7 linked regions of the Homo sapiens genome follow. The protein of the gene in region 6 purifies or fractionates together with the protein of the main gene of each other region. This does not show direct contact. Each region holds a gene or a part of one and is shown on either strand. Other genes may lie near its edges. The genes, in order: PRXL2A, GALNT11, SLC30A9, KIAA1586, LMBRD2, KLRD1 and TMEM39B.

Region 1 (4,462 bases), on a different chromosome or scaffold from region 6:
TGAGGCTATGGTGGTGCAGGAATAACAGCCAGTCTGGGTAGCCACAGAAGCACCCAGAAGGAAGTGGCTTTGGAGCCGGTGTAGGACACAGGAGGCAGCATGGACAGGCTAGGCTGGGATGGGGCCAGCTAAGCTGGGAGACAGCAGGCTGACTGGGGCAGGTGTCAGTGCTGAAGGAACCCTGAGAACTCAAACCTCTATGTTCCAAAGACCCCCATCTCCATACCTCAAGTTCAAGGGCTGGGTACAAGATCCAGACCTCAAAACCCCCATAAGTGCTGTCTTCTGACCTCCCACTGTGATCCTGAAAGTGTGAGCAGAGATTCAGCCCTCTGGGGCAGTGGACCCCATCCTCAGGCACTGCAGCACCATGCTGAGAGTGTTATCAGGACCAGTGGTGAGCATCAGGCCTCTCCATGGACAGACCGCACCCAGTGGGCCTCTAGCAGCCCACTCTTGTGCCAGAGAGAAGCACAGAAAATTCACTTCCAGGAATACCTGGAGAGCACACAGGCCTAGCCTCTTATCCAAGTCCCCTGGGCTACAAAGCAACTCCCATCCTGGCATGTCTTGAAGCACGTACTACTGTGACTTGCTGCACAGTGAGCAGACCCTGAATTCTGAAATCACAATTTTTCCTACACACAAAAAAGGACAATCAAAGGAATTTTAATTTCTAAACAGAAATGATGCATTTTCACATGGGTCTCTAAGATTGCAGAGGTATGGAGGCCAGCAATCCTTCGTACCTCTGCAGCCAGTCGTCTTAGAAGCTGTCAGTAATGGCCTAATTTCATTCACTCAACAGTCTTGTGATGCAAAGATTATCCTGTTTAGCAGCTAACACTGAGGTTCAGAGTTCAGTAACTTCCCTGTGTCACAGAGCCAGCAGGCAGCAGTACTACAACCTGGACCCAAGTCAACAGGAATAGGACTCCAAAGCCTGAAAGACTACCTTTCCTCGCCACACATTCAGAAGTGGGTTTACATCTGCTGTAATTGTTGATTAACAAAGAAAAGAAGAAAGAAGTCGGTCCTGGAGATCCAGGAGTATGATTCCCTCTGTCTTAAAGAGAATGTGTTTTTAATCACCTTGTTTTTTCAGTCATCGTGTACAGTCAAACCATGTTTACTCTAAAGGAAATTTACCATACACCAGATGTTCCTTCTCTTTCCTCCCCCTTTCTATCCCCCCTTCCATTAAGGAAAGGGTCAGTTTCTCTGAAACAGAATAGTAGGGTTGTTTACAGAAGAGCCAGCCCCCACCTGACACAGCTATAGCATTCAGTTCCCCACTGCTGGGCTTATCTGATCCACCCTCTCCCACAGAAGGTGAAGTAGGATAAAGCCACAAACAAACAACAGCTGTGGCAGCTCAGAGTGGCAGCTCTGGTCTGAACATGGGTGCAAGAGGACGAGACCCAGTCGGGCTCCCTAGGCTAAGCTGAATCAATTCCTCCCCAGGCCCCATTTTTCTCAACTCCATGAGGAAGTTCCTAATGATCCCCAGTGACATCCTATGAGTCTAACAAAAACAGGTCACTTTGGAGTCAGAACATTCTAGGCTCCTCAACACTGCCCCCACCGCCCCAAATTCAGTTTCCAGCTTCGAGACCCTGTCTCTTTCCTATACAAGGCAACTCCCTTCCTCAAACGGTCTCTTACCCCCAACCTCAGACGCTTCAAACTTGGGAACAAGGCACTCACCATACACAGCGTCCACACCTCTGCTTCTCTTGACAAAGAAGTATATCCAGGGGTGAGCAGACGGGCCTGGGCAGGCGGCAAGGGGAGGGCTGGAGGCGGGACTAGGTCCCTAGGCTCAGTCACTCCATAGGCAGGACCAGGCCACCCAGAAACCCTGGGGCTCCTTCAGCTGCCAACAGTCAGTCTCCAGAAAACATCTAAATGGAAAGCTGCCAAGGCCCCCTAGCCCTTCAAAAAGTTGAGCAAAGCTTTGAGTCATTTGCAGTCATGCAGATTATAACATTTCCCAAGTGCCACCAGACTCCTCTGCTATCCGGTGCAGACTAAAGAAGCAAAGCTCGTAACACAGCCCACATGTCATACTAGCGCAAATAAAAGAAGATGTCCTTTTCTCTGTGGCTCCTCGTGCAGCCTGCTCCCTTGCCCCATTCCTCACCCCAGGCCTGGAAAGTCAGCTGGCACCTCTGAGGCCCCTCATCTGCTGTCTATTCTTTACCTCCTTTTGCTTTCCCTTCCTTTTCTGCCACATCGGTGGCTTCCCTCAACCCACACTCCCTTCCTGGGTGACTTCCAGCACTTCTCCCACCACTTTGTTATTGACTTCCAAGTTCCTATTGCTGTTCTGACCCAAAGTTTCCACTTGGGGGTTTTGTAGGTGTCTTGGTTGTACCACATCCAAAACTAAAGTCGATTTCTCTGCTGGAGTTCCATGGCTCAGTAGATGGGGGGGCAGGGAGGGGGGACAGTGGGGGACAGGGGTTCACATTTTACTGTTCATTTGCCTTCACTGCCTACATCGACTCAGGAAGTTCTGTCCATCTTCTAAAATGTATCTGCTACCCATCCTCTTCTCGACCTCACTGCTGCTGCCCAAACCCAGGATCCTATAACTCTGTCCCTAGCCTATTTCAAGAACCACAGAATGAATCTGGCTTGGTTCTAGTCTGGTCCTCTATAGTTTATTTTCCAAGCCGTAGTCAGAGCGATCCCAGCACACCCCCACCTGATTACACCTTTCCCTTGTGTTCAGACTCTCACTAACAATAAACTCCTCAGCAAGCCAGCTGATGGGGCCCTCCACAGCTTGGCTTCAGCAAGTGTTGCTCATGTTGTTTCCTTTGCCCGGGATGCCCCCCTCTGACCCAGGCCAACCACGTAAATGCCTACTTATTCATAAGGCCCAGCACACATAACACTTCCTCTCCAAAGCCTTTCCTGAAAGCCCTGACAACTGACTGCTCACTGACCTCTTCTATAGCGTGCATGTGTGTGCGCACACACCCATAACCCTGCACAATGCACAAATGAATTGTGTAAATTTTAGTTATTTACATGTCTGTCTCCACAATATGTTGGCACAATGTGTTGTCGTCTTCATTCCTGCATCCCCAGCACTCAACACAGATCCTGGTAATTATCAGGCATTAAATGTTAATTAAATTATCTGAATTTTACTCTTAGAATTCCACAGTGAGGCAGACTTGGAACTTATAACTACTCAATTCCAATTTCAGTTCAGTATGAAAGGCAATTTTGGACAGGGCTGGCTTGATATTAAAGAAAACACTCTAGCTTGGGACTTAGGTAACCTTAGGCTGGGTCCTCGCTCTACTGCTCACTAGCAGGGCAATCTGACTTAAGGTATGAAGACACTCGGGGCCTGGATCTCATCATCTATACAGAGGAAGGAACTCAAAATTCTATGAGGTTGTCTTAGCTCTGACATCCAAAGACTCTAAAGTACCATGTGACTGCAACTACAGGGATCTGATGTCTAGAAAGCCATGGGAACCCCTGCCACCACTGTTCTTCTGCTGGGTGTGCACATTCACCCTGCCTCCTTTGCTGGGCCTAACTCCTGACTGTTCCAGGAGCTGCCTCTGGGCAGGAACTGATAAAGTCTTAATGAAACAAAGTATCAGCACTGGCTGAGTTAAATCATGTCTGAAACAAGTAGAGACAGCATCATATTCTAAACATCAAGGGTACACCTGCCCAGCCCAGCCCCACCCAGGGAATCGTCCCTCTTCAGAATGAGCTGGCCTGAGGCAGAGATAGGGGAGAAGCAAGAAAAGGTGCTGAGGGAGACAAAAAACTAAGAGTGCACATGGGCCTCCTTGCCTCAGGCCCTCAGTGAACAAGTCTTGAAAGGATGCTTCATCTTCCTTCTCTGGTCTCCTCTGTTTCCCTCTCCTTCCCTCAAAGCGCTGGTTCAGCTCATTTTACTGAGCAAATGAAGAAACTAAAGCTCAGAGAAGGAGCTGGCTAGTCCAAGGTCACATGGGCAGGGCAGGTTGTCAGTGGCTGCACTGGGACTCAGGTTTGGGTCTCCCAACTTCCAGTCCATGACTGTTTATCCTGCATCAGACACGCTAGGTCCTGGGCAGCCAGCCAAGGGCCAGTGGCCTCTAAGGCTGGAATAGCATGGCAGTCTGGGCTCAGGAAGTGGGGCCCTGCAGGTCTTGAAGCCTGTTCACTGGCCTCAGGCAAGCTAAGAGCAAGACTGCCCGTAAACAGGGCCTGGGAAATCTGCTGCCTGGAGAGAACATCATCAGCCTCTCCCAAGCCCAATCCTTGGTAAGCAGCTTATAATCTGAAGCCAAATGTCTTAAGGGTCTCATTGCCTAGTCTCCGCTGAGAAGCCATTCTGCACCTCTCTTCCCCACAATAACAAGACTCTGTCCATCCTTGTCTAGCATACTGATGATGCAGGCACACAGAGCCTTATGAGCAACAGATGCCCTTCCACCCACCC
Region 2 (4,462 bases), on a different chromosome or scaffold from region 6:
ACAAACCTTTAGCTAGACACAGAGCGCTGATTGGTGCATTTACAATCCTTTAGCTAGACAGAAAAGTTCTCCAAGTCTGCTACCCAGTTAGCTAGTCACAGAGCACTGATTGGTGCATTTACAATCCTTTAGCTAGACTGAAAAGTTCTCCAAGTCCCCTACCCGATTAGCTAGACACAGAGCACTGATTGGTGTGTTTACAAACCTTTAGCTAGACACAGAGCCCTGATTGGTGCATTTACAATCCTTTAGACAGAGTAGTTCTCCAAGTCCCCACCCGACCCAGAAGCACAGCCAGCTTCACCTCTCAATCCCCCCCCTCTAAACAGGACACCCCAACTGCTGTTGGGAATTTGGCCAATGACTGCTGTAGCTACTTCCTGCTGGATAGGGGTGAAGAAGGGGCCCTGCAATTGTAGTGTCCTCCAGAGGGGAACTCTTTAGGCCAGTGAAAGGGCCAGCAGGTTGGTCCAGGGGTCCTGGTAGAAGTTTAGTTGAGCTCATTTGGAGTTCCATTTGTAAGACCATCTGTAGCTTGATGGTCTCAATTCTAGAGGAAACAAATTTGAAAAGGAGGTTAAAAATACAGGGCCCGAAGGCAAGTAATAGCAAGATGGCTGCCACAGGACCTAGAAAGGGGAGAAGCCATGTTGTCCAACTCCAGAGGTTGGTGTAAGAGTTTGAAAGGCGTCTGATTTCAGAAGCCTTTTCCTATAAATGTTGGGTGGCATCTCATACTATCCCTGACTGGTTAGTGTAAAAACAACACTCTTCCCCTAAGAAGGTGCAGAGTCCTCCTTTCTCAGCAGTGAGGAGGTCTAGGCCTCGGTGGTTTTGGAGAGTCATTGCTGCCAAAGAGTCTATTTGGAATTGTAGTTACTATCCTTACTGGATAGATTTTGTTATTTCTTGCAAACTCTCTTGAGAAATCCTTTGAGAGTGTGGTAGTAGGATAATGAAGTAGGTAAACTGGCTATTCCAGTTCCTGTAGCAGTGGCCATTTCTAACCCTATAGGTAGGGGTATTAGTTGTATGGCTCTGCACTGACGGACTTGAGCTTTGAGGGGTACTGATAGGGTCTGATTTCCACAAGATTAGAAGTTAGAATAATATATGTTTACACTGTTAACTTTTAGCAAACTTTACTTTTGTTGAAAACCTTGTAAGTTTGGGATTTCAATTATTCTTTGCTATTAATAAGACCTCGTTCAGTCCATATTAACTTAGAATTGATATAGATGGCTCCTTCCTGATTCTGTAAGTACTTTAAGGTTTGGCTGAGTGCAAACAGCTCGCACATTTGAGCAAACCAATTATTAGGCAGTTTTCCTAACTCTGCTTCTACAGTTCCCTTATCATTTACTGAATACCCCTTGTGTCTTTTTTCCTTAATCACCCAGGAGGAACCATCTATGGTCCTGTCCTGAAGGGAGTTCCTCCTAGATCTGGTCGGACCTTTGTATGGTAGTTAGTTAAGATTTAGATCCCCTGTTAGGAAACCTGCTGGGTTAAGGATTTTTGATAGGAAGGCTATGGGTTGTCAGTGGCCTCAGTGCTTTTGGGCTACGCCCTTGTTTACACTGACAACAAGGTGGTATTGGAGTGTTACAGAGTTACAGAGAAGGCCTTCAATTATCAGTTATAGGTTTTAACTTTACTGTGGCTTTTAAAGGAATAGGGTGTAGGGTCCAGCCCCACAGGGTCGGTGGGTTTTTTCCCCGTGTGCGGAGACGAGAGAGTGTAGAAATAAAGACACAAGACAGAGATAAAAGAAAAGACAAGAGGTAGAGGAGTAGAGTCTTCTGTAAACTCCCACGGGGAAAGGGAGACTCCCTTTCCTGGTCTGCTAAGTAGCGGGTGTTTTTCCTTGACACTGATGCTACCGCTAGATCACGGGACGCTGGTGTTACCACTAGACCAAGGAGCCCTCTGGTGGCCCTGTCCGAGCATAACAGAAGCCTCAACTCTTGTCTTCTGGTCACTTCTCACTATGTCCCCTCAGCTCCTATCCCTGTATGGCCTGGTTTTTCCTAGGTTATGATTGTAGAGTGAAGATTATTATAATATTGGAATAAAGAGTAATTGCTACAAACTAATGATTAATGATATTCATATATAATCATCTCTATGATCTATATTTAGTATAACTTCTTATTTTATATATTTTATACTGGAACAGCTCGTGCCCTCAGTCTCTTGCCTCGGCACCTGGGTGGCTTGCCGCCCACAATAGGGTACACTGTTTTTTCTTTACTACTTCTATCTCTCTTTCTCTTTGATGACTTCTTTGTCTCTCTGAGTCCCTCTTTGTCTGTCTCTTCCTCTCTCTCTTTGCCTTTCTATGTCTCTCTCTCTGACTCTCTCTTTGTCTCTGTCTCTTTGACTTTGTCTCTTTCTTTCTCTCTGACTCCTTTGTCTCTCACTTCCTCTCTCTGTGTCTCTCTCTGATTTTCTGTTTCTTTCTCTCTTTCCTTTCTGCTGGTCTTTCCCTTCCTCTGCCAGCCACTTATGCTGCTGTTCTCCCCTCTCCTTCCCGTTTTGATGGCTTTGGCAGTGTAAGACTGCCACCTCCTTGGGTTTTTGCACTGCATGCAATAACTCCATGGTTTCCTTGTGGTATTTAATGGGGGTTCCCCCAGAGGTTAGAAACTCCCTTTCTTTCCATATTGCAGCACAGGCATGTAGGATTAGATAAGCATACTTGCTACCTGTATACACATTTATTCTTTTTCCCTTTCCCAGTTCTAAGGCTCAGGTAAGTGCCACTAGTTCTCCTGACTGGGTGCTGGTCCTTGGGGGAGGAGGCTTACTTTCAAGTACGGTTACGTCACTAACTATGGCATAACCTGCCCTTCGTATCCCATTCTCCACAAATGAACTTCTGTTGGTATATAGATTAAGGTCAGGATTAGCTAAGGGGACTTATAAGAGGTCATCTCAGGCAGCATAAGTCTGGACTATAATTTGTTGGCAGTCATGCTCGATTGGTTCCCCATCCTCTGGGAGAAAAGTGGCAGGGTTGAGGGCCACGCATGTATGTATTTGAAGCACCGGTCCCTCAAGGAGTAGTGCCTGGTATCTAAGTAGGTGGTTGTCTGATAGCCATAAACTCCCTTTGGCACTTACTATGCCATTTACATCATGAGTAGTCCAGACAGTGAGATCCTTTCCTTGTATTATTTTGATAGCCTCTGACACTAGGATGGGTACTGCTGCAACTACCCTTAAACAGTGAGGCCAGCCTTTTGCTACTACATCAATTTCCTTACCTAGGTGTGCCACCAGTTGTCAGACACGAGTCTGAGTAAGGACTCCAAGAGCTATCCCTGCTCTCTCTGTGATGTATAAAGAGAAGTTTTGTCCTGTGGGAAGGCTTAAAGCTGGAGCTTGTACTAGGGCCTGCTTTAAGGTTTTGAAGGCTGTTTCTGCCTCTGGTTCCCATTCTACTAGATGAGTATTTGCCCTCTGGGTCTCCTTGATTAGAGTATAGAGGGGCCTGGCTATCTTGCTCTATCTGGGGATCCATAGTTGGCAAAAGCGGTGATTTGAAGGAACCCCCACAACTGTTTTAAAGTCTTAGGGTGAGGATAAGCCAGTATAGGCTGTATTCGTTCCTTGCCAAGGGTCCTGGTCCCTCTGGCTAAGATTAGGCCTAGATATTTGACCTGCTGTAGGCAAAGCTGGGCCTTTGACCTAGATGCCTTGTACCCTTGATTAGCTAGAAAATTCAAGAGATCTAGAGTAGCCTGCTGGCATGAGGCTTCCGAACTGGTAGCCAAAAGTAAATCATCCACATACTGAAGGACCAGAGTGCCTGGACTTGAGAAGTGGCCTAGATCTTGGGCCAGTGCCTGACCAAACAGATGAGGGCTATCCCTAAACCCTTGGGGCAAGACGGTCCATATAAGTTGGGATGTGTGGTCTGTGGGATCCTCAAAGGCAAAGAGAAACTGGGAGTCATGGGAGTCATAGTGCAGGGGAATACAGAAGAAGGCATCCTTGAGGTCCAGAACAGGGAACCATTCTGCTTCCTCTGGTATTTGAGAGAGCAGGGTATAGGGGTTGGGTACAACTGGATATAGAGGAATTACTGCCTCACTGATGAGTCTAAGATCTTGCACTAGACTCCACTGACCGTTCGGTTTTTGTACTCCTAGAATTGGGGTGTTGCAGGGACTGCTGCATTTCTTTACTAAGCCTTGAGCTTTTACATGTTTAACAATATCCTGTAATCCTTTATGAGCTTCAGGCCTTAAGGGATATTGCCTTTGATAAGGAAATGTGGTGGGATCTTTTAACCTGATTTGGACTGGGCAGGCATTTTTTGCCCTTCCAAATTGTCCTTCCAATGCCCAGACTTCAAGGTAGATTCCTTCCTCAAGTAGGTGACACCAAATGGGTAACTTGTTCCCCATATTCATGTAGATAATAGCTCCAGCTTTGGCTAACATATCCCTCCCTA
Region 3 (4,462 bases), on a different chromosome or scaffold from region 6:
CTCCCCAGCCCAGCTCTTCAGAAATGCAAGCCCAGTGGTATTTGCATCATACCCTTTTGCCTCCCAGACAGGAAAGCAGATACTCAAGCATAACTACTTTTCACCCCTCCTGCTCTAACCCTCAGTAAACAATCTTCCCTAGAAACTGCTGAGAAATTCTCTTCTTTCTACAGTGATCACTGTAAGATCTTTTCTGTACAGCACATATAAGAAATAACAAAACACTCTGAATTCTGAGGACATGGAGATTTACTAGAAAAACAAGCCTACGTAAGACTCCAAGTATTCTTACAACATTAGACCCTAATTTCTGAGGGATCCTGAGCAGGTTACTAAACACTGAGTCCAAAATTTTTTATCCATATAAGGAAGCTATATTTTAATCAACCATCAAGGATGAAATAAGAATTAATGTTTTAATATTTATAGTTACATGTGCTCAAGTTAAAACAAAACTTTTTCAGATTGGCAAAAGGCTATATCATTTATTCTTTTTTTTTTCTCTCCTGGTAACTCACAGAACATATTTATTCATTTTCAAAAATCATTTCTACTTTAGTCTTCACAGAGTATAAACACATTTCATTATTTGGCTGGTATGTGAGTAGCAACTAATAAATATATTTAGATATACTTTTTCCTTATGTTCTTACATATAACTAACTACAGACAGAAAACTGTTTGGAGGGCTCCCATATGATCAATCCCTGCCACCTATACGCAAGCCCTTGTGTGATCTCCTCTCACTGAATGTGGGCTATAACTACCAAATATGGCAAAGTGATGAGATGTCATTTCCAAGACCAGGTGACTAACCTGTGACTTTTGTCTTGTTCACACTCGCTCTCTATTGCCTTATCAATTTGCACGCTTTGATTAAGCAAGCTGCCATGTTGAAGAGGCCCATTTGGCAAGGAGCTAAATCTTGCGAACAATCATGTGAGTAAGGTTAGAAGCAGCCCCTTCCCCAGGAGATGACTATAATCCCAGTCAACACCTTGATTACAGTCTATGAGAAACCCTGAAGTCGAAGACCCAGATAAGCTGTGCCCTGATTCCTGACTCACAGAAACTGTAAGATGGTAATATGTTGTTTAAACCACTAAGTTTTGGGCCAATTTGTCACACAGCAGTAGGTAACTAATATACTGTTTAAAAAAATTGTATGAATTTTCTGGATTACTAACGTATTTTTTCCAATAATTGAATCCACAGATATTCACTCTTCCACAAAATTTCGAATTTGCCAGTCTTTCAGTTTATAGCTCTTTTTTAGACATTACTTATTAAACAATATATACAAAATTATAAACATGTATGTAGCAACAACAGAGCACCAAAATATATGATGCCAAAACCAAGAAGAAATGAAGGGAGGAAGAGCTAATACAACAACAATAACTAGAGACTTCGATACTTTCAGTAACGGATACAGAGGCCGGGCACGGTGCTCACACCTAGCACTTTGGGAGACCGAGGCGGGTGGATCACCTGAGGTCAGGAGTTTGAGACCAGCCTGGCCAACATGGCCAGTGATGAAACCTCGTCTCTCAGGAGTTTGAGACCAGCCTGGCCAACATGGCCAGTGGTGAAACCTCGTCTCTACTAAAAATACAAAAATTAGCTGGTCATGGTGGTGAGCACCTGTAATCCCAGCTACTTGGGAGGGTAAGGCAGGAGAATCACTTGAATCTGGGAGGCGGAGGTTCCAGTGAGCCAAGATCGTGCCACTGCACTCCAGCCTGGGCAACAAGAACAAAACTCCATCTAAAAAAAAAAAAAAAAAAAGGATAGAACAATAGAGCAAGAAGATAATTAGGGAAATTGAAGTCACTATAAACCAATTAAACCTAACAAACATCTACAGAACACTCTACAACAACAGCAGAATATACATTCTTCTCAAGTGCACATGAATATTATCCAAGACTATATGTAAGGCCATAAAACAAACCTTGGTAAATTTAAAAGGACAGAACTAATATAAAACATATTCTTTGACCACAATAGAACAAAATAATAAATCAATAATGGAAAGAAATCTGTGCAACTCACAAATACGTAAAAATTAAGTGACATACTCCCCTAAATAACTGAAAAGAATAAAAAAAGAAATTAGAAAATACTATTAGATAATGAAAATGGCACAATATATGGAAATGTGTGGAATGCAGAGAAAGCAATACTTAAAGGAAAATTTGTAGCTGTAATTGTCTATTTTAAAAAAGAAGAAACATCAAATTAAAAGCTTAACCTTAAGACAGTGGAAAAAGAGCAAACTAAACTGAAAGCACGCAGAAGGAAAAAAATAATAAAGATTAAAGGAGAAAGTCATGAAAAAGAAAATAGAAAAACAACAGAGAAAGTCAATTAAACCAAAAGCTGGTTCTTTAGAAAGATCAAGAAAATGAACAAACCTTTAGCTACACTGACCAAGAAAAGGAGAGATTCAAATTACAGAAATGAAAGATGAGACATTTGTACCAACACTAAAGAAATAAAATGGATTACAAAGGAATATTATAAATAGCTGTATACCAACAAATTAGGTAAATTAGAAGTAAAAGACAAATTCCTAGAATACAAGCTACTTAAACTAAGTCAAGAAGAAACAGACAATCTGAACAGATCCATAACAAGAGATATAATTACTAATCAAAAAACTACCCACACAGCAAAGCTCATATCCAGATACTTGAATTCTACCATTTAAAGAAGCTAACACCAATTATTCACAAACTCTTCCAAAAAAATAGGAGAGAACATTTCCCAACTCATTCTCTGAAGCCAGTATTATCTTAATACCAAAACCAGACAAAAACATCACAAAGAAAGGATATTAATTTGGATTATCTCACATTATGTTAATAACTCTAATACTGACTTTCATAATGCTCAACTTCTAATCTTTTTTTTTTTTTTTTTGAGACAGGGTTTTGCTATGCTGCCCAGAATATAGTACAGTGAGTGGCTATTCACAGACATGATCATTGCACACTAGCCTCAAACTCGTGGCCTCAAGTGATCCTCCTGCCTCAGCTTCCCAAGTAGCTGGAACTATAGGCATGTGCCACTGTGCCCATCTCTCATTTTCTAATCTTGTTCCAATAAGATAGTTACTTTTCAAGATTAAACATATAGGGCATAGAATATAAATCTAGTAATCATTAATATATTTTACTAATTCAGATATACGGGTCATTTTAAAAAGATTTAACTTAAAGATTTCAAGTACAATACACAAAAAAATCTTATTTTAAAGTTTGAAAAAATATAGAGCGAGTTAGTAGAAAACTGGGTTTTTAAAGGTTTGTTCTTTTATTTCATTATAAAACCACAATGCTGCTAGAATTTCACTGAAAAGCACTATTAGAATTCTGTATCTCTTCTGCTGATTATCTCCTAAGTCTCCAGTTCTTTAGTTTTACATAATTTAAAAGATAAAGATTATAAGAAAAATACTTAAAATAAGCTAAAACAAAGTCTATTTTCAAAGTAAATATAAATTATATTTAATTTGGTAATCATTGCCCAATGAACAAAAATCTTTTTAAATTTAATATATTCAATTTGTAATTGCAATGCGAATATAAGGCAACTCTACAGGTTCCATATTAAGTATTTCCACTAAGAAGACAACTACTTTGCAAACTTCCATTCTCATTATATCAACTTGACTCTTCCTTACTCTAAAAATTAGAAGTATAGAAAATTTAAAAGGAAACTTAGAAGGAGTTTCCTAAGTGTATTCTTTCTTACTTCCAGGATTATAATTCTGAAAAGTTACAGACTAAAACGTTCTGAAGACGAGGAATCCAAAACTTCCTCTGGAAGTATTTACAAACCAGGCATTTCTGTTTTTTAATATGTTTTTGTAAGCCTTAACAGGATTACTGGAATAAGGCTGACCTTACTGATGGGTCATTCTCCAGGAGTTCAGTGAGCCGTTGTACTTGTTCTGGCTGGATGGACCGCCCTAAGAGTGCTTCTGTGTTAGTGTAGATGAGGAATGCTGAGACCATGCCTAATAAGGTGCCCACACCCAAAGAACCTAGGCTGTCATACAGTGGATTGCCTAAATGAAGCACATAAAAAAATCAGTAAATTAACAGTTTATATTATTTCAGTGAACTTTATAGAGAGCAAAGAACCAGAACGAGTAAATCAAGGCACTTGAAATTTATTCCTAATTTCTTTAATTACTTCCTTTAACAACTCCTAATAGTTTTAATATACCACAAAATGAGGATGCTACAACTTGCTTTCATAAGAGTACTATGTGACATAATTAAGATCTCTTACTTGTACCTGTCATTACATATGTGAAGTTTCTGAGCACATTTAGATTAGAGACACCAATACAAAAAAATGACATAATGAAGAGTCCATTTCTTTTAGATATATCCATAGCACTTTTCCTACACCAGATAGACAAAATAACAGTGGAATCAAAAGCTGAAAG
Region 4 (3,978 bases), on a different chromosome or scaffold from region 6:
GAAATACACTCAGAGACAACTTTCCTTTGTAACCCCATCCTATACTGGGCTCTACCAGGATATGCTTATTTCTCTGTGTTTTTTATAGTACCATCCAGTAAAGATGCAATGCTGCTGGGTATAGTTCTCTGCTTGTGGGTTCTTCAGATTAAAAGAAAAAAAAGTTTGTTACTTCTTGATATATTCTGGTTTGGATTCCTTAGTCTTTTCATATAAATGTTGATTATCTAGCCTTCATTCTGCGTTGTGGCACAGAATCCTCTTTGTGTTCTGTCATGTACCTAGCCTCCAAAATAAACAATATGCTGAAAGAAAGGAATGATAAAAGATTTGGGGATACAAAAAGAGTCCTTATCTTAATGTAAATTTTATTGAAATATAGTACCTATACAGGGAAGGTTACTTCCTCCTTGCCATCACTATTTTTGTACCACATTACCATTTGTCTAGATTGATTATCTTGTTTGTATTCTTCCCACATGCTCTCTTATGTGGTTAACCTTCTTGAAACAGCTCTAATAATGTTCCCATCTTGATGTTATTTATTGATTCCTTTGCCTACAGAATAAAATCTAGGATTTTGACTAGGGCATTTATGGCCTGGTCTATGATGAGGGTAGTGTATATGTAAAGAAAGGATCAAGAAGACTCAGAGTTTGATGTTTGGCTGTACAGTGATGTGGAGGATAAAGCAGGGTTATCAAAGAACTTCGAGATTACTGATAATCATTTCAGTTAAAAAAAATTGTACTATGAAATCTGTTATCTTTTTTTTTTAATGAGGTAGGGCCAGGGGGTGGGTTTTTCACTATGTTGCCCAGGCTGGACTTGAATTCCTGGGCTCAAGTGATCCTCCTGCCTCAGCCTCCTGAGCAGCTGAGACTGGCACTGTGCCTAACTGAAATCTGTATCTTTTTAAATCAATATCTGTGCTATTTCCCATTTTGAAAGGAATCTACATGGCTTTATTCCTCTATATAGATTTAGGCTCTTTGGGTTTTGTCATTATTATGTTTTTTTTTTTTTCCTTTTTACTAGCAGGAACAGTATTACGTATTCATGTACTCTGACTCTTTTCCCATGCCTCTTTTTTTTTTTTAGACAGTGTCTTGCTCTAAATTTTATCTAGGCTAGAGTGTAATGGCATAATTATAGCTCACTGTAGCCCCAACTTCCTGGGCTCCAGTGATCCTCTCACCTCAGCCTCCCAAGTAGCTGGGATTACAGGTGTGAGCCACCGTACCCATCTGATTTTTTTTTTTTGTAGAGTTGGTGTCTCACTATGTTGCCCAGGCTGATCTTGAACTTCTGGGCTCAAGTGATCCTCCTGTCTTGGCCTCCCAGTGTGCTAGGATTACAGGTGTGAGCCACTGCTCCCAGCCCCTTTGCCCGTTTTGTTTCTAATTATTCTGTGCCACTTGCAAGATTTTCTCGAGAATCTTTCCCAATTCCAACTAAAAAAATCTCCCACTGATTGTTAAATTTAAGTTTAATTGGAATGATTGTTCATGACTTGTAAATTTGCCCACTTCCTTTTTAGGAAGGACCATCGAGACCTGTTCTTGAATACATCGATCTGGTCTGTGGTGATGATGAAAACCCTAGCGCCTATTATAGTGATGTAAGCACATTATATTTGTGTTTGTTCAGTTTTCTTATTAAGTGCAATAGTGTGTTGGTGGTAGCTTGAACTGGATCATAAGAACTAATTGTTGGCCAGGCACGGTGGCTCTCGCTTGTAATCCCAGCACTTTGGGAGGCCGAGGCGGTTGGATCACTTGAGGCCAGGAGTTCGAGACCAGCCTGGCCAGCAAGGTGAAACCCCCATCTCTACTAAAAATACAAAAAATTAGCCGGGCTTGGTGGCACATGCCTGTAATCCCAGCTACTTGGGAGGCTGAGGCAGGAGAATCACTTGAACCTGGGAGGTGAAGGTTGCAGTGAGCCGAGATCATGCCATTGTGCTCTACCCTGGGCAACAGAGCAAGACTCCTTCTCAAAAAAAAAAAAAAAAATCTAATCGTTAAACTTTCAGGAATTTTGTGAGCTGATTGTAAACATAACAGTTATTACAAATTAAAGTATATAAATGCACAAGTACATAAATGATCATATTTAATACATCATTTCCTACTTAATACATCATTTCCTACTATCTGTGCACTTGAGGTTATTTGCATCTATTGGTAGAAATACTATTAATACATAATAGTGTCCTGCTGCAGTATTGATAGAACATTACCCCATTGTAATCAGTAAAATACAAACTAGAATTTGATTTATTATTTGTTGATTAAACTTAAGAAAGTGAAGGATAGAATGTTAATGCAGATTAAATTTCAAAGTGTGATGTGTCTCTGCTAGACTAAATGCAATACAAAAAAATTGAGGAAGTTGCTTTGCAATATTCCAAAACTCGGCCAGGCATGGTGGCTCACACCTGTAATCCCAGCACTTTGGGAGGCCAAGGCTGGCAGATCACTTGAGGTCAGGAGTTCGAGACCAGCCTGCCCAGTATAGTGAAACCTCATCTCTACCAAAGATACAAAAACTAGCCGGGCGTGGTGGTGCATGCCTATAGTCCCAACTAATTAGCCAGGTGTCGTGGCACGTGCCTGTAATTTCAGCTACTTGGGAGGCGGAGACATGAGAATTGCTTGAACCCGGGAGGTGGAGTTTACGGTGAGCTGAGATCGCGCCACTGCACTCCAGCTTGGGTGACAGAGCGAGACTCCGTCTCAAAAAAAAAATTTTTTTTTAAACTCTTCATTAGTTCGGAAAGATGTTGATGTCATTGATGAATGAGCGAAACTCTAATATATGTCTTTATTGTTTCACTTTCATCTTATTCATTAATGTAATTGAAAATATTATCCACCCTTCATGTTGCTACTACAGTCAGCCCTTCATATACTGTGGGTTCCACATCCGTGGATTCACCCAACTGTAGATGGAAAATATTTTTTTAAATAATAAAAATACAATAATAAACACATTAAAAAGTAATACATTATAAAAACTTTTATGGCATTGATATTATATTAGGTATTAAAAATAATCTAGAAATGACCTCAAGTATAGAGGAGGATATGCAAAGGTTGAGTGCAAATACTTCATTTTATACAAGGGACTTGAGCATGGGAGGATTTTGGTATGGGGAGGTGCAAATAGCATACTCATTTGCGAAACATATGACCAACCATTTTGCTAATTGGATGATAATTCATAGTCAAATTTTGTGAAACTGTTGTTGGTTGTAGAATTTTAAAAACTAATAGTGGGTTTTTCAAGAAATAGCAAGTCATATTGATATTATAGATATAAACTGAAAATCAGGTTAAATATTTAAGTTTAAAATGTATTTCCAAAATTAGATAATCACTAAGAGAACTTTTTACATTGACCCTTAAAGTGTTATGAATTTTACTTACATATGTAAAATTATTTTTCAGATTCTGTTTCCTAAAATGCCAAAACGACAGGGTGATTTTTTGCATTTTTTAAATGTGAAGAAGGTGAAAACAGACACAGAAAATAATGAAGTGAGCAAAAATCACTGCAGATTGTCTAAGGCAAAGGAACCACATTTCGAGTATATTGAACAACCAATCATTGAAGAAAAGCCATCACTTTCATCAAAGAAAGAAATAGATAATCTTGTGCTTCCAGATTGTTGGAATGAAAAACAAGCATTTATGTTTACAGAACAATACAAATGGCTTGAAATAAAAGAAGGTAAATTAGGATGTAAGGATTGTTCAGCAGTTCGGCATTTGGGATCGAAAGCAGAAAAGCATGTCCATGTGTCCAAGGAATGGATTGCATATTTAGTAACCCCTAATGGCAGTAATAAAACTACTAGGCAAGCTTCTCTACGAAAAAAAATTAGGGAACATGATGTTTCTAAAGCCCATGGTAAAATTCAGGATTTGTTAAAGGAATCAACTAATGATTCAATTTGTAATTTAGTGCATAAAC
Region 5 (4,462 bases), on a different chromosome or scaffold from region 6:
ACCAGAAGACAGAAGACAAACATGGAACAGATTTTCCCTAGAACCCTCAGAAGGAACCAACCCTGCAGATACCTTAATCTTGAACGTTAGTCCCCAGAACTGTGAGCCAATATTTTCTATTGTTTAAGCCACCCAGTTTGTAGTAGTTTTGTTACAGCAGTCCTAGGAAGCTAATAAAGCTTCCCTGAAGAATTATCATTTATGTTAAGACTTGAAAATGAAATAGGAATTAGCTGAAGAGAGTGCTGAAAAGAGCATTCTAATAGTTTGGGAATAGCATGCTCAAAGATAGAAAAGAAAGACAATGTGTGTAATAATTAAGCATATGGTCATCAAGCCAGATCAATTCAGTCCACTACTTGTTCTCATACTAGAACACACCCACTCTCATTCATTTATTTACTGGCTATGGCTGCTTTCATCCTACAATGACAGAGTAGTTGCAATAGAAATGACATTGCACACAAAGCCTAAAATATTTACTATCTGGCCCTTTACAGAAAAGTTTGTCAGTCCCTGTTTAAGGCAAGACTGCCTGGCTCTTATCACTTCCTAGCCATGTAGACATGAGAAAGTTACTTAATCTCTCCGTGCCTCATATTCTTCATTTATAGAATGGGGATTTACAAAAATCTCTATCATAAAGTCATGAGAATTAAATATATGTATAGTGCTTAGAAAGTCCCTCTTAGGCAAATAGTAAGTCTATATAATTGTTTACTATAATTATCACCATTACTAAGTTTGAGGAACGAAAGTTGAGTGTTAGGTAAATATTAAGTCTATAGAATTGTTTATTATTTCATCAACATTAGCAAGTTTGAGAAACCAAAGATGACCAGTGCAAGAAAATAGAGGCTTGGGATACAGCTGGAGAGCTAAACATAGGCCAAATTATTTTTCTGTAGGCTGCATTAAAACATTTTGGAGTTTATTCTAACATGAATGAAAAGCCTTCAACAGGAGTTTTAATTTGGAGAGTATCATCAGCTGAGTAGCATATTTTCCCTGGGAAGCAAAAATGTGAGGTGACTACAATAATCTCTTTAAATCCATAACAAAATTTTTATTTAACACAGAAAAATTTTATAATTTGTTGTATATTTTTATGTACAGTATTGAAAGTTATACTTTCAACAACTTTGTGAAACTAGGTTAAGTCATCAAGTAAAATGAAGTGTCTTATTAAGATTACAGATAGGAAACAAAACTTACCAATACAAACTCCCATGCAAATTGTTCTTTAAAGAGGTTTCCAGAATTGGTGGGATTACCTTAGGTTAACCTTTCGGAAATAAGTGTCCTCTGGTCATTATTCTCAGTTCTACTATGTTAGGGTAACCATACAATTTATCATTTAATCTCGGAGACTTTTGAAAATTAAAGAGGGTACTATTAAAAGTTACCTCAAAATAATAGGCGTAGCCCTGCACTATTGAATATATTTTCCATGAATCTCTGTCAGACAGAAGATGGACAAGACACATCATGAGGCTGAACTGCTAAAAAGTCATCCTGGATGAGACATCCTGAAGGATTGCACAACACCAGTTTTGCAGTCTGAAGCCCATCAATGCACTAACAACAACAACAAACCAAAAATGACTAAAAGGGGATACATATGACTTAGTGACTATTGCTTATAAGGTTCAAACTTGCTTACCTCCATGGCATCTTCCAAATTCTCTTCTGCATCTGCTTTCTCTGTCATCAGTTTGGCTGCCTTAAAATACGTTTTCATAAGTAGATAACCCCTTTTTGCTCCATTCCAGTATGATCGAGGAATTTCCACCAAGCCATACCCCAACAACAACACAAGAAGAAACAGACCCCATGTATTTGCAGCAGCTATCCCAATTGTCTGAAGCTGGTTCCTAAGAAAGGGAAACAACAGATAATATGTATATTTTAATGGAAAGATAAAATGCGACTGCATAAATAGACTTTAACACAGGAGACACTGTTTCTACTGCAGTTAAAATTAGCATCTAGAATAATTCATGGCAATAATATGTATATATTTTCCCAAAGGAAACATTTTTCATTAGGTGATTTCTTATTCTATATTAAACAAAAGAAGTTTGAAAATGTTTCAAATTAACCTGTGTTGCTGACCTAGCAAATCTCAGGAATACAATAGTGAGACCTAGCACTGCTGATCTATTCCTAAATTTTCAGATGTAGACCTTCACATATATTACAAATCATAAGTATAAAACAGATTTCAATTTTATTGAAATATCTAAATCCAAGGTAACATTAAGAACAAATATGCCTTCAAATTATAATCAAAACAAAAAAAATCACAAGTTCCAATGAAAAATAAAACCAGTTATTTTATCATAAAAATTTTGAAATTCTATCCAAAAATCATAAGGGTTATTACTTTTAATATATAGCCATTAGACTAATCATTAATCTTTTGCCTAAAATCTATATTTAAAGATGTCATTCCATATTTTCTTAGTAATATGGATTATTCACATATTCTTTTGGGGAAATCCATAAAATATGTAACAATATATTTCTCAATGAAATGTCTTTTTACCTGCACATATGAAATTAAAAATGATTTTTTAAAAATGCAAACATACATTAAAGCAATGTTAAGAAGACTACTTTTCTTACCATTCTAAATGTAAATGTGGGTTTACAGCTACATAAATTAAAAATGCTCCAAAAATCAGCAAATAGGTGCCATAGTAGATTGCATTCTCAATTAGTGCAGTTTTGATCTTTCCAGTGATGGAAAACCCTCCTGATCTTGCATATGACTGCATAAAAGGTAAGAGAATCCTAGATGGATAGAAAAAATATGATTAAAAACCCAAATAATTGATATGTCTGTATAATCTCAAAGTGCCAGAAATATATGAATCTCAATTTTAATGAATAGGTCTTCTCATTAATAAATGTTTATAAGTAATCATGAATACTTAATAACTATAATAGATGACTGAGTATTTTTGTAATATAAAATTTTAGGGAAAGCAAATGGGTCTTTAAAGCCTTTATGAAGAGTCTGGACTACATTCAAAGAAAACATTTTTGATCAAATTTTAGTTTCCTAAGGCTTCACACGGAGAATGGATAAAAGGGGAACAAAATTGGAACTAGTTGGGAGGGGGAAGGGTGATGATGGTGGTAAGAAGCAAAAAGGGAGAAGGTCAGTTGACAGCATACTGACTTTGAAGTAGTACCTAGGAGACATCCAAGAGGAGCTGCACACAAACCCAGCTTCAGGGTTCAGGAGAGCGGACTAAAAATATGGATAGCTTCCGAAGTCATCACTGTATCAATGGCAGTGAAATAACATCAGTAGATACTCAACTGTAAGAATGAGTATGGAGAATGTGAAGGAAAGAACTGAGACAGAACTCTGAGAAATATCAACTTTTAAGAGAGGTAGAGAACAGAAGGAGGGTAGACCAGCAAAAGAGACTGAGACAGAACAATAGTGGGGCAAGGAAGAAAACCAAGGAGCATATGGATTAGGAACTAGGAGAGGAAAGTTAAAGTGGAGAGAGAGAATCAAATGCCGCCAAGAGGTGAAGTAAATTAAGAACCTGTATGTATAAGTGGAGGAGAATAGAAAGCAGAGTACTATGGTTAAGAAATAAGTAAACAATGAGCAAGTGGAGATATCAAATATAGAGAATTTATTTAAGAAGTTTGGCTGGGTAGGATAAACTATGGCATATACATATAATGGGGTATGTTACAGAAATGGAAAAGAACAGAATACTGATACATACAGCACAGCATAGATGAATTTCCCAAATATGTGAGCAAAGAGAGATGCAAAAAAGTTCACAATGTATAATTCTATGCTTATAAAGTTCATAAACAGGCAAAAACTAATCTATGGTGACGGAAGTCAGAATCATGGTTACTTCTGGGGAGTGCGGGATGACTACACAGGGAAGCGTGAGCGAGGCTTCTGGGGGCATTGCTAATGTTCTATAACATCATCTGAGTGCTGGTGTATGGGTGTATTCACTTTGAAAAAAGTCAAACTAAACACAATCTATGCATTTTTCGGTACGAACTTATGCTTCAATTTTAAAAAGTTTCTAAAAAAATTTAGTTGTGATCAGATCAACAAGGCAGAAGCTGGAAAGGAATCTGAATTGAGAGACTTTCATTTTTGTTTGTTTTCTTTTCAAAAGATGAGAGAAATGTGCATGCTTCGTTGAAATTGAAAGCTACAAGTATGTAACAAGAGCTGAAGGGGATGGATCCATATTTTAGGAAGAAGTGATGGCAGCAGCAGCTTGTCTGGAGTGGCCCCCAGCAAAGTTGCTGGCCGCAGTGTGGGGGGACTGGCGGGGACTGTGCACTCCATGGAGCTAGCAGGAGCTGGGAAGAGGTGGGAGCCCCACCCCCTTCCGAGTTGGCGGGGCAGGAGCCCTGCTCTGGGCATAGCTGCAGCTGCCCAGCTGTGGCTGTGGACCCAGGCATC
Region 6 (4,462 bases):
AGCCTGAAACGAAAGATATGTTTCCTATATGAGTGCTCATAATTAAGTAACAAAAAATAAACCACAGGAAATGTTACAGTTAATCCTCATTACCTGCCTGAATTTGCTTATAACCTATACTTTTGCATCTCACTACTTTTCCTTTTCCAGAATATACTGCACAGATTTCTAAACCTTACTTATCCAGTGAAAGCCAGCTCAAAGTCCAATTTTCGTTTTTGGAGATGGAGTTTTGCTCTTGTCGTCCAGGCTGGAGTGCAGTGGCACGATCTTGGCTCACTGCCACATCAGCCTCCCTGGTTCAAGTGATTCTCCCACCTTCCTGCCTCAGCCTCCCAAGTAGCTGGGACTACAGGCGCCCGCCACCATGCCCAGCTAATTTTTGTGTTATTAGTAGAGTCAGGGTTTCGCCATGTTGGCCAGGCTGGTCTCGAACTCCTGACCTCAGGTCATCCACCTGCCTCGGCTTCCAAAGTGTTGGGATTATGCCGTACCCAGCAGAGCCACTGCGCCCGGCCTCAATTTTCTAAATATGTATTTTTCGGAATGCGCCCCAAGTTGTCTCACCATCATCTTGATTATATAGTGTTTATTTACAGTGCAACATCTTGGCCAGGCACAGTGGCTCACGTCTGTAATCCCAGCTCTTTGGGAGGCTGAGGTAGGCATATTACTTGAGGTCAGAAGTTCAAGACAGGCCAACCCCGTCTGTACTAAAAATACAAAAATTAGCCAGGCATGGCGGCACGCACCTGTAGTATCAGTTACTCAGGAGGCTGAGGCATGAGAATCACTTGAACCTGGGAGGCGGAGGTTGAAGGGAGCTGAGATGGTGCCACTGCACTCCAGCCTGGGCAACACAGCAAGACTCTGTCTCAAAAACAATTAAAAAATATAAAAATAATAGTGCAACATCTTCAGCACTACTTATATGGCAAAGATTTGAGTGCCTATGACGTGTCATGTTTTTATTACCGTGGGTAACAAACGTTGAAGACACTATTATTGATAAACTGTATAATTAAGCCTCAAGATAATTGGTTTATTTATATTCCCTTTTCAAAAATAAGATATCCAAACATATATCAAAATTCTCCAAATGTACCATATTCTTTTCTGACTCAGAAAGTATGCTAAAATGTTTTCCTCCTTTAAATCTTTTTCATCTAGTTAACTCCTATTTATGCTACAGTACTTAGTTTTGAGTCACTTCCTCAAAAAAAGGTTCTTGTAACTGCCCCTCATCTTACACTCTGCTACATGCTGTTTTAACATACTTAATTTTTTTGTACTTATCTAAATCATCACTAAATATCGTTAATAAATTATTGAAAATTATATAATTGTAATTCTATCTCTAGAATATAATCTCCATGAGGAAAAAGCATCATGTTCATGTCTAATTAGTTCACATTAGTAGCCCCTGAAGTGTGGTGTATACAGTAGATTCTGAATGTTAAAAGAATACACAGCAAATAATTTTTGAATAATTAAATAGCATTGAAAAAAATGTCTAGTCTCCAGTGTCATTAGTCATGCTTTATGTTTTCTGTCAGACTCTGACTGCTGTTCTTGCCAAGAAAAATGGGTTGGGTACCGGTGCAACTGTTACTTCATTTCCAGTGAACAGAAAACTTGGAACGAAAGTCGGCATCTCTGTGCTTCTCAGAAATCCAGCCTGCTTCAGCTTCAAAACACAGATGAACTGGCATGTGCTGAGTCTGATTTTCTACATTTTCTTTGATCTAGAAAAATATACTATCTAAACAAGTTAAATACTTTGGTTTAAGTCATTAATCACATAGTAAGTGGATGGTTATATTGGAATTGAGTTATCTGTTCTGTGTACCTTAAAGTAGTCATTGTAAAATCTTTATTAAATTCCTTAATGATTATATCATGGGAATACAAATCAAGATAGGTGCCAAATAAAGTGAAAGAAACTTTTCAGGAAGAATTCAAAGAAGATAATAGGTCATTATATTTACCCATTTTATTTGAAGAACCAACTAAATGACTGTGATTCTTAACTCTTTTAATTGAATTTATAATATCTTTTATAATTTTATAGTTTTTGTCATCTTTCTGGGATATAAGCTAGTATGGAAATATGGTAAGAAAACGTACCCAATTCTTTTCTTTTCTTTTTTTTTTTTTTTTTTTGAGACAGAGTTTTACTCTGTTGCCCAGGCTGGAGTGCACTGGTGCAATTTCAGCTCACTGCAGCCTCCACCTCCTGGGTTCAAGTGATTCTCCTGCCTCAGCCTCCTGAGTAGCTGGGATTACAGACACCTGCCACCAGGCCTGGCACTTTTTGTATTTTTAGTAGAGACAGGGTTTCACCGTATTGGCGAGGCTGGTCTTGAACTCCTGACCTCGGGTGATCTACCCTCCTTGGCCTCCCAAAGTGCTAGGATTACAGGCATGAGCCACCGTGCCTGGCCCTAATTACCCAATTCTTTTTTGTTTGTTTGTTTGTTTGTTTGTTTGAGATGGAGTCTCGCTCTGTCGCCCAGGCTGGAGTGCAGTGGCGTGATCTTGGCTCACTGCAAGCTCCTCCTCCCGGGTTCACGCCATTCTCCTGCCTCAGCCTCCCGAGTAGCTGGGACTACAGGCGCCCACAACCACGCCCAGTTAATTTTGTGTATTTTTAGTAGAGACGCGGTTTCACCGTGTTAGCCAGGATGGTCTCGATCTTCTGACCTCATGATCTGCCCACCTCTGCCTCCCAAAGTGCTGGGATTACAGGCGTGAGCCACCGTGCCCGGCCCCTAATTACCCAGTTCTTAAGAAAAAGTGCGGCCGGGCGCAGTGGCTGAAACCTGTAATCCCAGCACTTTGGGAGGCCGAGGAGGGCGGATCACAGTCAGGAGATCGAGACCATCCTGGCTAACACGGTGAAACCACGTCTCTACTAAAAATACAAAAAATTAGCCGGGCGTGGTGGCGGGCGCCTGTAGTCCCAGCTACTCGGGAGGCGGAGGCAGGAGAATGGCGTGAACCTGGGAGGCAGAGCTTGCAGTGAGCTGAGATCGTCCCACTGCACTCCAGCCTGGGCGACAGAGCAAGACTCCCTCTCAACAAAAAGAAAAAAGAAAAAGCGAAAAACTTCTCCTGCTGCACGTGGCACCTTTGCGGATTATAGGTTGAGTAGATTATACCCATGGGATTCCTCCTTCACAATACCATGATTTTGGAATCAAATTTAATCTTTGATCCCCCGTGAAGAAAGTGTTCCATGAAAACTCTATCTCCTTTTAGAAGGTTTTTAATTCTTCAGGAAGTGAGATTTTGTGGTATTTTTTCTCCATATATGAATGGGCCTGATAAATGAGAACTTTCAGTCTTGTGATTATACCTTTTAAATAGGAAGTTAAAAATAATTTCCGTTTGTGTGATGGACAGGCTGAATCTTATTCTAAACACTGACTTTCCCTCAAAATATGTTATTCCCAGAATAGATTAAAATTAGATTAATGTGATTGTCTTTTACTTGAAGCAGGATTTTATGAGCTCCAGTCAACAATTTTACTGGATTGGACTCTCTTACAGTGAGGAGCACACCGCCTGGTTGTGGGAGAATGGCTCTGCACTCTCCCAGTATCTGTAAGTTTCTGGCAATCATGGCGTTTTTTGCTCTTTATGAATTTGTCCTTAAATGTGACTAGTAAAGGTAACATCCAGGAGCACTGTGGCTGAAATAACCTTGTCTAGGGCATGAGAATACAGTAAAAGGAAAAAGTACAACAAAATAACAATTTTAGATCTAGGCAGATCTAAACCACTCTAAGTGTTAAAATCAAAACAGAAGATAATGCCTAATGAAAGGAGGTCGGGGTATAGGATAGTTGGTGCAAAAAAATACTGATAACCATTACATGCTTGCCTGTATTATTTTAAATTTTTTAATTAAAAATATATTATTTTGTAGTCACATGGACAACAAAACCAAAACATTACAAATCTCCAGAAAGTGCAATGCATAAGCTCTCTTAGTTCAAATTAAACATTTGAAAGGTATTATATTTCATCCTATATCTTTTGTCAGTTAACTGAAGTGCATTTTTCCTAAATCAATCTTCATACAAGAATGTGAAGAGGGCCAGGGATGGTGGCTTGAGCATCCAAGTTAATGCTCAAGTGACATGAAATTTAGTGTATTCGTGGCCATAAAAGAACTTTTAACATATGCTTTATTTTTGCCTTAGTACCAGCACTTGGAAGTATATGTGCATGTACAGATACTCATATACACAGAGGCAGTCCAAAAAAATAGTATATTTATTATTTTATTTATTCTGGTAGACCCCAATATTCTCAGCATGCTCTTATGTTTTATATACTATAGACTCATTGTCTGTATGTGTGTACTTTTTGAATCTCATTTTCATTTATAAACATGAGATTTGCAGCATCACACAGGGACAAAGTTTATGCTCTGGTTTGTTTTCCTAGACTAGAT
Region 7 (4,174 bases), on a different chromosome or scaffold from region 6:
GGGATTACAGGCGTGAGCCACCATGCCCGGCCGAGCTGCAGTTATTAAGTGACAATTTATATGGCTGTCCTTGTGCTACATGTGTGCACTGTCTTCCTTTGGATTGGGGAAATACTGAAAATAGCTTTCTCTTGCAATGACATCACATTCCTGCCCTGCAGATCCTCCCACCCTCTCAGGCCCCAACCCTCCTTCCCCGGGGAGGAGACTCACATGGAAGCGGAAGTGGGAGACGTCAGAGGGGATAGCCACGTTGTAGTGGCCTACGGCTTTGTAGACGTTCTTGCTGTGCTTCACCAGCACGCCCTGCGGCCACATGCATTCTTCAGTCCACCTGGGGGCACAGTTCAATGGTGCCCCTTATCCCCAGCTCACCCACAAAAGGGATACCAGAAGAATGGGCAGGAGGGAATCACCAGGGCTCTACTCCCATTTCTATCACTTAGACACGCTGACTTTCCTTTTCTGGGTTTCAGTTGCCTCCTCTGTAAAATGGGGTAAGAATCATGAGGAATTCACTGTACTGTGAGTTAGGTGGTCTAGGGCTGACATTAATTACTAAGAGACTGTTGAGAGAACCCTTCTTCCTCTCTGGGTCCCTTTGCTTCATCTGGTCTCACCTCTTGCCTCCAAGTGGTCCACCACACAGTTGTCTGAGTGGTCTTTGTAAAATACTAAGCTCAGCCTGACCACCCTCTGCTTAAAACTCTTTGTGGGCTTTTTTTTTTGAGAATGAGTTTCGATCTTGTCGCCCAGACTGGAGTGCAGTGGCACAATCTTGGCTTACTGCAACCTCCGCCTCCCAGGTTCAAGCAATTCTCCTGCCTCAGCCTGAAGAGTAGCTGGGATTACAGGCATCTGCCACCATGCCCAGCTAATTTTTGTATTTTTAGTAGAGATGGAGTTTCACCATGTTGGCCAGGCTAGTCTCGAATTCTTGACGTCAGGTGATCTGTCCACCTCAGTCTCTCAAAGTGCTGGGATTACAGGCGTCAGCCACAGCGCCTGGTCCTGCTTAAAACCTTTTGAAGGCTTCCTAGTGCCCTTGGGGTCAAGGCCCCAAGGATTTGACATGGCCTCTGAGGTCTTGTGTGGCTTCCCACAACCCTCACCACACAGCTCATGCTGTTTCTCGTTCCTCCAGCACTCTGTACTGCTTCACGTCTCTCCCTAAGCTGCTCCCTCCAATTGGATTGCCCTTCCCAAAGCCTAATCCTTCTGGTAAGCTCTTCATCATCTTTCAAAACCCAGGTTCCTCCACAAAGCCTTTCTCAAACTCCCTAGAGTTTGACATCCTTTTATTTTTTTAAAAAAACTTTAAGTTCTAGGGTACATGTGTACAACATGCAGGTTTGTTACATATGTATACATGTGCCACATTGGTGTGCTGCACCCATTAACTCGTCATTTACATTAGGTATTTCTCTTAATGTTATCCCTCCCCCACCCCACCCCACCACAGGTCCTGGTGTATGATGTTCCCCACCTTGTGTCCAAGTGTTCTCATTGTTCAATTCCAACCTATGAGTGTTTTTTTTTTTTTGAGACAGAGTCTCACTCTGCCGCCCAGGCTGGAGTGCAGTGGCGCTCGGCTCACTGCAACCTCCACCTCCTGGGTTCAAGTGATTCTCCTGCCTCAGAACTATAGGCACCTGCCACCACGCCCGGCTAATTTTTCTGTATTTTTTGTAGAGACGGGGTTTCGCCATGTTGCCCAGGCTGGTCTCAAACTGCTGACCTCACGTGATCTGCCTGCCTTGGCCTCCCAAAGTGCTAGGATACAGGCAATGAGCCACCGTGCCTGGCCCATTTGGCATCCTTTAACTGTTCCCTGCATCTCCTGCTACTAGTCCACATTCCCCAATGCTGGTCATCTATTTATTTCCCATCTGTATACCTCACTAGGCTGAGAGCCCTTGAGCGGGAGGATCTAATCCATCCCTGTGTCCTCAGAGCATGCCGCAAGGCCTGGCACAGAGAGGCCCTAGTGAGCATGTGAATGAAATGCTAGGACCGGTGAGCTTTCTTTTTTTTTTTGAGACAGAGTCTCGCTCTTTCGCCTAGGCCAGACTGCAGTGGCGCTATCTCTATCTCGGCTCACTGCAAGCTCCGCCTCCTAGGTTCATGCCATTCTCCTGCTTCAGCCTCCTGAGTAGCTGGGACTACAGGCGCCCGCCACTGCGCCCAGCTAATTTTTTTGTATTTTTAGAAGAGACGGGGTTTCACCGTGTTAGCCAGGATGGCCTCGATCTCCTGACCTCGTGATCCGCCCGCCTTGGCCTCCCAAAGTGCTGGGATTACAGGCGTGAGCCACTGCACCTGGCCCAGTGAGCTTTCTTATAATGTCCTGTGAGATCTCCCAGGAATCCCAAGGGCCTGGACCAGAGGACTGCAAGTCACAGCCTGTAAGCAGCCCCCTTCTCAACCCAATGCTCTTGCCTTGCTGACTCACTCATTTAAAAAAAAAATAGTTGGCTGGGCACAGTGGCTCACACTTGTAATTCCAGCACTTTGGGGAGGCCGAGGGTGTGCAGATCACCTGAGGTCAGGAGTTCGAGACCAGCCTGGCCAACATGGTGAAACCCCGTCTCTACTAAAAATACAAAAAAAAATTAGCGGGGCATGGTGACACAGGCCTGTAATCCCAGCTACTCGGGAAGCTGAGGCAGGAGAATCGCTTGAACCCGGAAGGTGGAGGTTGCAGTGAGCCAAGATCGCAGCACTGCACTCCAACCTGGGCAACAAGAGCGAAACCCCGTCTCAAAAAACAAAAAAGAAAAGTTATTGTGCGACTCATAACATGAATGAACCTCACAAACAATATGCTGAATAAAAGAAGTTGGGGGCCGGGCACGGTGGCTCACGCCTGTAATCTCAGCACTTTGAGAGGCTGAGGCGGATGGATCATGAGGTCAGGAGATTGAGACCATGGTGAAACCCTGTCTCTACTAAAAATACAAAAAATTAGCCAGGTGCGGTGGCGGGCATCTGTAGTCCCAGCTACTCAGGAGGCTGACGCAGGAGAATGGTGTGAACCTGGGAGGCGGAGCTTGCAGTGAGCCGAGATCACACCACTGCACTCCAGCCTGGGCGACAGAGCGAGACTCCATCTCAAAAACAAACAAACAAAAAAAAGAAGTTGGGGCCGGGTGCAACAGCTCACGCCTATAATCCCAGTTCCACTTTGGGAGGCTGAGGCAGGCAGATCACGAGGTTGGGAGTTCGTGACCAGCCTGGCCAGCATGGTGAAACCCCATCTCTACTAAAAATACAAAAAATTAGTTGGGCATGGTGGCGCACGCCTGTAATCCCAGCTACTCGGGAGGCTGAGGCAGGAGAACTGCTTGAACCTGGGAGGCGGAAATTGCACTGAGCCAAGATCGCGCCACTGCACTCCAGCCTGGGTGACAGAGTGACACTCTGTAGCAAAAAAAAAAAAAAAGAAGAAGTTGGACACGATTTCATTTATATTAAGTTCTACAACAGGCAAAACTAACCTCTCGTGAAAGAAAACAGAAAGGTAGTTTGTCTTGGGGGAAGGATCACTGGGAAGGGCCATGAGGACATTTTCTGAAGGGCTGGAAATGTTCTATATCTTGAATGAGGGGTGGGTTACATGAGTATATATACCTTTATCAAAACTGAAAGAATTGTACCCTTTAAGATTTGTAGGCCAAGTGCAGTGGCTCATGCCTGTGATCCCAGCACTCTGGGAGGTCGAGGTGGGTGGATCGCTCGAGCCCATAAGCTCTAGACCAGCCTGGGCAACATGGCAAAACCTTGTCTCTACAAAAAAATACAAAAATTAGCTGGATGTGGTGGCATGCGCCTGTAATCCCAGCGACTTGGGAGCTGAGGTGGGAGGATCACCTGAGCCCAGGAGGTTGTGGCTGTAATGAGCTGTGATTGCACCACTGCACTCCAGCCTGGGAGACAGAGTGGGACCTTGTCTCAAAAAAAAAAAAGGATTGCACATTTCACTGTATGGAAATTTTACCTTAAAAAGAAAGGCCTAGGCCAAGTGTAGTGGCTCACTCCTGTAACCCCAGCACTTTGGGAGGCCAGGACGAGTGAATCACCTGAGGTCAGGAGTTTGAGACCAGCCTCGCTAACATGGTGAAACCCCATCTCTACTAAAAACGTAAAAATTAGCCGGGTGTGGTGGTGCACACCT

What was found.
Region 1: the proteins of KLRD1 (region 6) and PRXL2A purify together in Homo sapiens (affinity purification with mass spectrometry; one large-scale study listed by BioGRID and IntAct). This does not show direct contact.
Region 2: the proteins of KLRD1 (region 6) and GALNT11 purify together in Homo sapiens (affinity purification with mass spectrometry; one large-scale study listed by BioGRID and IntAct). This does not show direct contact.
Region 3: the proteins of KLRD1 (region 6) and SLC30A9 purify together in Homo sapiens (affinity purification with mass spectrometry; one large-scale study listed by BioGRID and IntAct). This does not show direct contact.
Region 4: the proteins of KLRD1 (region 6) and KIAA1586 purify together in Homo sapiens (affinity purification with mass spectrometry; one large-scale study listed by BioGRID and IntAct). This does not show direct contact.
Region 5: the proteins of KLRD1 (region 6) and LMBRD2 purify together in Homo sapiens (affinity purification with mass spectrometry; one large-scale study listed by BioGRID and IntAct). This does not show direct contact.
Region 7: the proteins of KLRD1 (region 6) and TMEM39B purify together in Homo sapiens (affinity purification with mass spectrometry; one large-scale study listed by BioGRID and IntAct). This does not show direct contact.

Annotation. Positions count from the first base shown.
Region 1 is NC_000010.11:80,411,122-80,415,583, reverse strand, and holds part of PRXL2A (peroxiredoxin-like 2A isoform 1 precursor), read right to left. Parts: intron 1,752-4,462; exon of another isoform or gene 1,711-1,751; coding exon of another isoform or gene 1,708-1,710; intron 1-1,707. UniProt on the Homo sapiens protein: Involved in redox regulation of the cell. Acts as an antioxidant. Inhibits TNFSF11-induced NFKB1 and JUN activation and osteoclast differentiation. May affect bone resorption and help to maintain bone mass.
Region 2 is NC_000007.14:152,028,367-152,032,828, forward strand, and holds part of GALNT11 (polypeptide N-acetylgalactosaminyltransferase 11), read left to right. Parts: intron 1-4,462. UniProt on the Homo sapiens protein: Polypeptide N-acetylgalactosaminyltransferase that catalyzes the initiation of protein O-linked glycosylation and is involved in left/right asymmetry by mediating O-glycosylation of NOTCH1.
Region 3 is NC_000004.12:42,070,139-42,074,600, reverse strand, and holds part of SLC30A9 (proton-coupled zinc antiporter SLC30A9, mitochondrial), read right to left. Parts: intron 4,076-4,462; coding exon 3,910-4,075; intron 1-3,909. UniProt on the Homo sapiens protein: Mitochondrial proton-coupled zinc ion antiporter mediating the export of zinc from the mitochondria and involved in zinc homeostasis, zinc mobilization as well as mitochondrial morphology and health.
Region 4 is NC_000006.12:57,049,234-57,053,211, forward strand, and holds part of KIAA1586 (E3 SUMO-protein ligase KIAA1586), read left to right. Parts: intron 1-1,540; coding exon 1,541-1,621; intron 1,622-3,452; coding exon 3,453-3,978.
Region 5 is NC_000005.10:36,134,646-36,139,107, forward strand, and holds part of LMBRD2 (G-protein coupled receptor-associated protein LMBRD2), read right to left. Parts: intron 2,797-4,462; coding exon 2,629-2,796; intron 1,875-2,628; coding exon 1,664-1,874; intron 1,579-1,663; exon of another isoform or gene 1,491-1,578; coding exon of another isoform or gene 1,407-1,490; intron 1-1,406. UniProt on the Homo sapiens protein: Recruited to ligand-activated beta-2 adrenergic receptor/ADRB2, it negatively regulates the adrenergic receptor signaling pathway. May also regulate other G-protein coupled receptors including type-1 angiotensin II receptor/AGTR1.
Region 6 is NC_000012.12:10,309,908-10,314,369, forward strand, and holds part of KLRD1 (natural killer cells antigen CD94), read left to right. Parts: intron 1-1,556; coding exon 1,557-1,708; exon of another isoform or gene 1,709-1,712; intron 1,713-3,499; coding exon of another isoform or gene 3,500-3,502; coding exon 3,503-3,606; intron 3,607-4,462. UniProt on the Homo sapiens protein: Immune receptor involved in self-nonself discrimination.
Region 7 is NC_000001.11:32,096,602-32,100,775, reverse strand, and holds part of TMEM39B (transmembrane protein 39B), read right to left. Parts: intron 486-4,174; exon of another isoform or gene 335-485; coding exon 214-334; intron 36-213; coding exon of another isoform or gene 1-35. UniProt on the Homo sapiens protein: May protect the cells against DNA damage caused by exposure to the cold-warming stress and facilitates tissue damage repair during the recovery phase.